Linked DNA regions of Homo sapiens: region 1 is linked to region 2. The links come from fine-mapping of genetic effects on gene expression. A gene starts in region 2. The other region holds a variant in brackets. All regions are shown on one strand. Distances are between the middles of the regions. Region 1 overlaps LINC01182 (long intergenic non-protein coding RNA 1182). Region 2 holds the start of LINC01182 (long intergenic non-protein coding RNA 1182).

What was found. PIP is the estimated chance that this variant, and not a neighbour inherited with it, causes the effect.
Region 1: its variant is the best candidate, but not a certain one, in a credible set for the expression of LINC01182 in atrial appendage (GTEx, PIP 0.82).

Annotation. Positions count from the first base shown.
Region 1 is chr4:13,711,518-13,715,915 of GRCh38, forward strand. The region is part of intron 2 of LINC01182 (long intergenic non-protein coding RNA 1182); the gene reads left to right. Among named protein-coding and RNA genes, the nearest start is that of LINC01182, 59 kb to the left of the region's middle. The variant A/T (reference allele first, on the strand shown) is at 2,445.
Region 2 is chr4:13,652,909-13,657,306 of GRCh38, forward strand. It overlaps LINC01182 (long intergenic non-protein coding RNA 1182), which reads left to right and starts at 2,271. Exons shown (of 4, transcript NR_121681.1): 1 at 2,271-2,443. RefSeq lists an enhancer at 1,796-1,845.

The sequences.
Region 1 (4,398 bases), 59 kb after region 2:
TGTAGTAAGTGAATAAATGCTTAGTTGTTACTTTCAGTTTGGCTCATTGTCCTAATTGACCACCTGGACACCTGGCAACTAGACAATTTTAAATTCATCCCTCTGGGTTCTTCTAAACATTATCATGCATAATTATCCAGACTGGCAAGGAGCAGAGAAGCATGGCTGAGAGTGGAACTCAAATGTCAGTGTAGGATTTTCAACGCCAGCTGTCCGTTTAAAAGAAACTGATGCTCACGTCTCATCCCAGACTATTTATAGGAAAATTTTTGTGGACGGAGCTCAGGCATGAGCTCCAGGTGACCTAAGATGAGCCAAAATTGTGAACATTGCATTAACAGGCATCAGAATCCTAATCCTGGAAATTAGTAGCACAGATTTCTAAGCTCTCTTTGATCTGTTGGATGAGAATAATCTAGGAGTAGGGCCTGGGAAACCGGGGAATTCAGGCGATTTTGACACAGGTGGTGATTAATTTGAGGAAGATGGAAAAATATTGGTCCAGTGTATGAGTGTGTGTGTGTGTGTGTGTGTGTGTACTCTCTCGATGGAGAGAAAGAATCATGGAGAAAGGGAATAAAAAACCTCAGAATCCAAGGAATAACCTAAAAAAGAACTTTATATTCATCCACTCATCCATCTATCCAGGTTGGTGGCAATGTGGCACAGCCACAGCCGTTAAAAGCATAGAATGGTTCTGTCATGTTGGGCAAATTATGTAACCTCTTTCAACCTCAGTTTCATCATCTGAAAATTGGGAACACACATAATATCCCCTTGCAGGTTATTATGATGTTTAAATAAATTATGCTTGTAAAGTATTTAACATAGCATCTAGAACTGCACTGTCTAATACAGTAGTCACTAGTTGTGTGTGGCTGCTGGGCACTGAAAATGTGGCTAGTTTGAATTGGGATGTGCTATAAATATAAAATCCACACTGAATTTTTAAATCTTAGGATAAAAATGCAAAATGTCTTATTAATAATTTTAAAATATTAAAATTATAATTTGACTATATTGTATTGAAATAATATTTTAGGAATATTAGGTTAAATAAAATATATTGTTAACATTAGCTTTATTGGTTTCTTTTTACTGTTTTACAAATGAGGCTACCAGAATATTTGAAAATAACAGATGTGGCTCGTATTTTATTTCTACTGGGCAGTGTTGACCTAGAACATAGCAAACTCTCAGTGACTGTTAGCATGTTGTTATTGGTATTATTTAATTCAAAAGCACTTAGTGAACACTTGCTATGAAGGATATAAACATCAGTCATTGATTAGCTAGTGTATCTTCCATTGAGGTAGTTAAAGTCTTGTTAAGGCAAAAGAAGTAACCAAGAATATTTGGGATTTGATTCATCTTAGAACTGTGGTGTGTGCCTGGCATAGTCCACATTTCCACAACAAATGCAAGATGAAATGCTACCAGAATTATTAATGAGACATTACAAATTGGGGTGATTAACTCAGGTACCTTAAAGCATATGCGGTGTCTGGTGACAAGAAGGTGTCTCAGAGAGGACGCTGGAGCTGAAGAACTTCATCAGACCTATAAAACAGTATTTGACAAATTAGATTCTAATACATATCATGTAGCCCATCATCTCTCCCTTTCCTGCCATTATAAAGAAAGGAATCAACACTTCTTGGAATATTGGGTCAAATATTTCCCCCTAAAATTCATGTCTACCTGGAACCTCAAAAATGACCTTACTTGGAAATAAGGTCCTTGGAGATGTAATAATTTAATAGAAAGTCATATTTGGTTAGGATGGGCTCTAATCCTATGATGGTGTCCTTTTAAGAAGAGAAAACAGAGACAGACATACAAGAGAACACATGTGAAGATGCAGGCAGGGATTGGAGTCATGCAGCTATAAGCAGATTATTGGCAACCACCAGAAGCTGGAAGAGGCAAGGAAGGATTCTTCTCTAGAGCTTTTGGAGGGAGCTTGGACCTGCTGACATCTTGAATTTGGACTTCTAGCCTTCAGAACTGTGAGAGAATAAATTTGTATTATTTCAAGCCACCCAGTTTGTGGAAATTTGTTATGACAGCCCAAGGGTATGGATATATTGAATATTTACTTAAGCCAGGTTTTGCTTTCTTAATTCTTTAGGAGACAAATATTAACTTCTTTGGTTTTCTGGGATTCACTTGTGGTTCTAGGGAGAATGTGGATCCAGGGAGACATGAAGGTCTTGGCAAAGGCAGAAACAGAGTCTAAGAGAAACCAAGGCATATCAAAACAATATAGCCAGATGGAGTCTCCAAAATGAGGATGAAGGGGCAAGCTAAAGGTCAAAGTTAGAAAACAGTGCCCAGAACTGGTTTAAAGTGAAGTCATGAAAGGAAGAGAAATGGTGGATTAGAAATGGATTAAATTGTGGATAGACTGGCAAGCAGAGAGTAAGATGGGTCCGGATGAAGAG[A/T]CTGGGAATATGGCTGATATCAGTATGGGATGGGTGAAGCCCCATGTCTGTGTTGTGCCAGCTGTGTGGCAGAGTGACATCTTTACATAAACTTGAAGTTATTGTTCCTTACACTAAGATATGGCTACATCTGGACACATGGTGATTGACAGGAGTTATATAAACCTATAGCACAAGGGTGGTGCATCTTCTTCTATCATCATAATACAAAAACAAACACATGTTTAGAAGTATAATATACAACTTTCCTGAATGCTAATCTAAAACATGAGATTATGAAAGTTTTTCTTTTGTGGCATTCACTTCAGGCTTTTAGCATTTCCCAGCAGTACACAGCCACTTTCATGTGCTCTCATGGCCATCTCCACTGCTGGAAAGTTGGAGAATCACTGAAGGAAAAGGCTTGTAAAGAACTGGACAATATTCCCATCATTTCTAAGATATGTCCCTTGCCCTAAGCCTGCATATTTAGGCACTCATTAGACATTTGGTAGTTCTTTTGTGAGAGTGAAAGTCCAAAAAAAGTGATGCATTTCTTTGGGTCTGCACCTTGGCCCGTGTGTTTATAAACAAAGAAAACTCATATAGGGAGGGTGTTTTCAGGAGTGCTAGGGGGCTGTGCATAGTAAGAAGTGCTTGATGATTCTCAAACTTGCAGACACTTCGGGCATATCAAGGCAAGAAGAACTTAAACCCAGTGCAAATATGAAAACTTTACCTTTATCTAGACAAGGCTTTCTAACTAAGAAATGCATGGTATTTAAATAGCCTGAAATTACAGTGGGTTTTCTTGTGTAGATTCATCTGGTTCAAGTTAGGTGTCTGTAACTTTTCTGCTACAAACCTATGTTCATATTTATATTACTCTTCTTTTAGTTAATTATATGTAGGTGTGTACTATTTTATCCTCTGGATCATCAAGGACAAATGGAACCTTTTTGAGGCTGGTTTCCTCTGCAGATTTAGAGCGATTGCTTGTTCCTGACGTGCTAAGCATTGGGAAGATGAGGAAGTTCATGGACATGCCCAGTTGCCAAAAGTGGAACCTGGGAGTCATCCTGGAATTTTTTCCTCTTCCTTGTGGCATCTCATCCATTACCAAGTCCTAAAATCTGCATCTGGAGAGCTCTCAAATCCACCCAACTTCTCTTTGTCCTTTTGCCTAGGTAAGAGTAGAGTCTAATCCTACACAGGAATGAACGTAGGGGTAGAAAAGAGTTAAAGATTCTAGAATTTGCTTATAAAGTGAAAATCATTTATAGTTAAAATTACCCTTGGGAGAAAAACATGGGGAAACCATTCCTTAAATTATACTTAGATTACCTGGGCCCTCTATAAATAAAAGCTGCCACATAAACTGTTATTTCTCTTGCTTTTCCAGCTGAGGCCATCCTTTATCTAATAGGACTAAAGGCTGTTTTGGACAGGGGGATGGATGATAAGGTAAATGAGGAAATTTCTCTGTTTATTTCATTTTATTTTAGTTAAACAATTATAAATGAATGGATGTTATGGCACTGGGTTGCATTTGGCTGGACAGTCATCAGCTGTTTCAGGCAGACCTTGCTAACCCAGTTAATAAATCCTATTAACCAAACAGGATTTATTCTTGCTGCAGCTTCATTTCTGCCACAAAGTGTTGTCTGGGGCAGTAATGTAAAAGAAAGCCAATGTTAGACTCAGCTGGTTAGAAACACAACAAAGCAGAATGTGGGTCTTCTGGGAAAGAAAGTGGATGGGATTGTTGAGAAAGGGAGACCTGGTCTTCTCCAGTCCCAGGAGGCTGCCAAACGCTCATTCCCAAGGGCGAAGTCTTGGATTTTCCCTTTTTTTCTCTCACAAAGTAACCACCTGTGGGAAATTCTCCTGCTTATCTTATTTTTCTTGCCCAGCATTCTAGACAGGCCTTCCTAACAGAGACCACCAAAGGTGTGTGAGGTCAGTGGCTGGATTG
Region 2 (4,398 bases):
ATTATCACACTGCTATTCCTCCCTTTAAAGCTCATTCATTTAAGTGCCAACAGAAATTGTCATATCCTAGAGAACTTCTATACTGGAACTTTTTCCTCTGTAGAGAAATACTTGTTTATCATTTGTTTCCAATACTTCAAATCATTCCTTTTCAGGTCAAGGCCTCCTTCTAATCTCTCCATTTTCCTCCAAGATGGCCTGGGCCAAATTTAAGGGAAAAATGTCTTGAGCAGAGTAGCTTGGAGCATTCTCATACCTTGACTCTTACTTAAAGAAAGGAAGAAGAAACTTTGGGGCTTTGATTTGGTTTGAAAAGGAGGAAGGGAGGTGATATTGAGCACTTATTTTGAGCACTTATTTTGTACCAAGTGCATAGCAGGTGGTCTATTTTGTTTCATTCTCTCAAGAATAGTCCCTGTGAGGTGGACTGTTTATTATCACCTCCATCTTGCAGATGAGAAAGTGGAGACTCTAAGCTGATAAAACCCTTTCTTGAGGTCATACAGAGCCAAGATTAAAATATTAACAAAAAATAAAATTCTAGAGCCCCTCCAAGCATCTGAATGGACCCCTTCTTGGCCAGGGCACTCCAAAGTTAACCTGAAAAACTGGTTCAGGCCATGACGGGAAGGGGTGTCAGACATGTCTCGTTATACCCTACTCTCTTTAGGAATTCAGGAAACGTGGCCAGCATTTAACATCAACACAGACCTTAAGTCTGATAAGAAACATTTACATTCTATTCTCTCTGAAGCCTGCTACCTGGAGGCTTCATCTGCGTGATAAAACCTTGGTTTCCACAACTTCTTATTGTAACCGAGACATTTCTTTCTAGAGATAGTAACTCTTTCAACCAATTGACAAATCAGACAAATTTTAAATCTACCTACAACTGGAAGCAGACCTCCCCACTTTCCCTTTTCTGGACTGAAACAATGTATGTCTTAAATGTATTTAATTGAAGTCTCACGTCTCCCTAAAATGTATACATCTAGGTGACGCCCCAATCACCTTGGGGTCATGTTCTCAGGATCTCCTGAAGGTTATGTCATGGGCCATTAGTGACTCATATTTGGCTCAGAATAAATCTCTTTAAATATTTTAGAGTCTGACTCTTTTTGTCAACAAAAATCACATCTCTGTCTGACATTGTCGTGATTTGGGTTCTTTCAAAAGCAGATCCTGAGACAAGGGTTTGAGTGCAAGTGGGACTTTGGAGGTGTATTTATCTTTTTAAAAAATTTTTTTTTGTGCCTCTCAGCTCTGAATGGACCCTTTATTAATTTATGCTCTGGGACTAACGAAGGCGTGCCTTTGAGCCCGTCTCCTTTAAGTGCGCGCGATGCTAGGCTTCCTCAGTAGAGGGCGCCGGAGGACACCGCAGCTGGAGGAGGGTTTCCGCCGGTTGTGCGGGGACCGCGGCTCAGTAGTGTGGGTGGACGAGGACAGCGGGTGGAACTGGTCCTTCTGTGACTTTGCAGCCCCGGCTTGGTGATAATTTTTGTGCAGGCTTCTTGACATGGAAAGCAGAGCTCCCCAGCACAGAGTGAGCCTCCGAAGGGCTCCTGCCCTTACCGGTGCCCTACCCTCCCTTTCCCTGCTTGCTACACTTGGGTCCGGGACTCAGCCTCCCTTTGCAAGCTTCTGCTCGGCCTGTGTGCAGCTGCACTTAGCTGGCAGGGTCAGGCGTTGAGTAGCCGCTCCGCTCCTTCTGCAGCCTCCTGCAGCCCCCGCCAGCTCCCGGGCTCCATCCCTCACCATCAGTTGCTGATTGGCGCCCCCTGCGTGCACAACGGAGGCTGGCTGCACCTGGAGGTTCCCAGCAATTCCAGGCCGGCTCCAGCCTAGCCAAAGCAGCTAACTTCTCTGCTGTCTCGTGGGCTGAACCTCACCGTTTCCCAAGAGGTCTGAATCCTTCTCAAGTTCGTCTTTTCCTAAGTTCTCCCTCGTAGCTCTAGGTTGCTTTGTAGAGTTTCCTTATATCTATACTCTTCATTGTAGTTAATGACTCTGTGTTACACTTGTCCTGTTGAACTTACTGTGTAGTTTCTGTCTCTTGACTGGATCAAGGCTCTCACAGGAGTCAATCCCAGAAAAATGATGAGACAGTAGGGAAGAGAGAAAAGCCAATAAACAGCATGTTAATGAGTAGGTCCCACCTGGGGCTCAGTCGCACTGGTGTCCCTCTGAGAGTATGGGCACCACACACTTTGGCATTGCCCCAGCAAGGCAAGGGGCAAGCAAGGGAGCTGGGTGTTTATCTCCCAGGCATTGCTTGAGGCTTGCTCTTGGGAATGGTAGCTCCCTGGAACTTCTGTCCAGCCTGCATATCTGGACTGTGCAGGGGATACTTCTATGGCCAGAAAAAGCCCTTGGGCAGAGAGAAGCAGGTTCTTGATGCTGAGATGTCTGCGTGCTTGGGAGTTGACCACTGCAGCTGCAGGTGACCTCTGGGGTGGGCCAAGGGGATGTAGGTGGGCAGTGATACATCTGCTACAGACATGTTGCAGGATGCAGGGCAGCAGAAGGAAACTGATCAGCTGGCTGCCAATGAATGGCCCAGACTGATTCAAGGGTAAATTTGCTGGAAGAAGTCCGTTGCAGAAGATCAGATGCTTTCCTGACTGGTGTAATTTAATTGTATGGTCAGTGTTTGCTATGGATAATTGGATTTTTCTTTGACCTTCACAATCTTGCTGGCTCTCTGTCCACACTGAAAGACACTTTTCTAACTCTCTCAAATGCAATAAGACTAACCTTGGCTTCCATCAGGAACTCATGGGCTTGCCATTTCCAGGAGGTGCCGATGGCTGTGGTATCCAACCAGCAAACGGCAGTGGTGTTTGTATTTTCCATTTTGCCCTTTACAAGAACATTTCAGCTGAAGCAAAAGGCTTTTTCCTTTACCCTGGGTTTTTTAATAGAAATCTTGGTGGCATTAAGCACTTTTAATTCTGAGCACTAGCCTGTAAAGTTCAAAGCTCTGTTCTGCTCTTGAACACAGCGGATACCAAGGCGAGAGATTCTAATCACAAGGAATACCAGAAAAAAAAAAATAAGCAGGAGACAAGTTTATTACGAAGGGTTGTGAACAGTATTTGTGATTAATGTGGAATGAAAAAGGTTATTTCTACATTAAAATCATTCACATTTGCAATAATTTAAACAATTTATCTGGTTTCCCCAAGTGGGGATGTGTTCTTTCCACATATAACATGCTCAGTGAAGGAAGAACAAGGAAGGTTACGCTGCCCTGAAACATATCTGGGAGAGCTTTTCGGCTCTGGGAGGATCACCAAGTTATGTTGTTAAGTGACAAAAACAATATCCGGAAGAGTGTCAAACAGCTAATTATTGTGTAAGAAGGAAAAAAAGAAGACTACATTAGTCACATTTACTTATATTTATATGAAAAGCTAATAAAAGTAGCTAGGTATACGTAAGGCAGTCAGAAACAAGACTTTTCAATTATAACTTTTATATCATTTTAATTTAAAAGTTACGCTAATATATTTCCTGTTCAAGAAACAAATAACAACATGCCCAGTGGAAAGCATCATCATTGTAATAATGTCCTAAGATCATTTTTTATGACCTTTGAAGGTAACTTAGGATAGGAAAATGCATTCCATAAAATTCAGCTGCCTGCACATAGTGAATCCTTTGCAAACCCTCGGAATAGGCTGAGGGTTTTTATATGACCATGGAATTTTTTTTTTTTTTTTTGCATCTTTGCTGCTATTCGCCATCCAGGCAGCAGGGGGAGGTGTTTCTCTGTTTTTCTTTGCGCCGCCCACGCCTTCTCCCCAACTTCATATGCAAAACTGACCAAGAATTCTCTAATTCAAATCTATGCACGAAAGGCACCACATTTTCTAGATTCATGTTGTTACTCTCTCATATCCCAAATCTGGGAGACTTGGAGCTTCCAGCAGGCTGCTAATGATTTTTCAAAAGGGGCCGATTGTTGGATTTGCTGGTGTAAAGTTTGTCCTCCCTCTTCTCTGTGCCCCTCCTTGTCACTCCACTCAGCCTTTATACATCACTTGCCATAATCGAGTCATAGAAAACGAAACTTACATTATGGAAATTCACAGCCTTTTTTTTTTTTCCACTTTGTAGATGAGACTCAGGATTTAGAAGGCAAAACAAACAAACAACCAAACAAATAAAAAAGGGATTTATTTTGGACCTTCATAAATGGTGCCAAAGTAAAAACAAACAAACAAAAGGTAAAAGAGGAAGGGACTGTTAGATGAATGTTTATCTCGGCGCCTGGTACCATACCTGCCTTACACACTCACAACGCAAGGAAGGGTGTGTCACCAGAGCCATTTTGCTAAGGAGGAGATTAAAGCTCAGAGGGGCTGAGCAACTTGCCCAAATTTATGTTGCTAG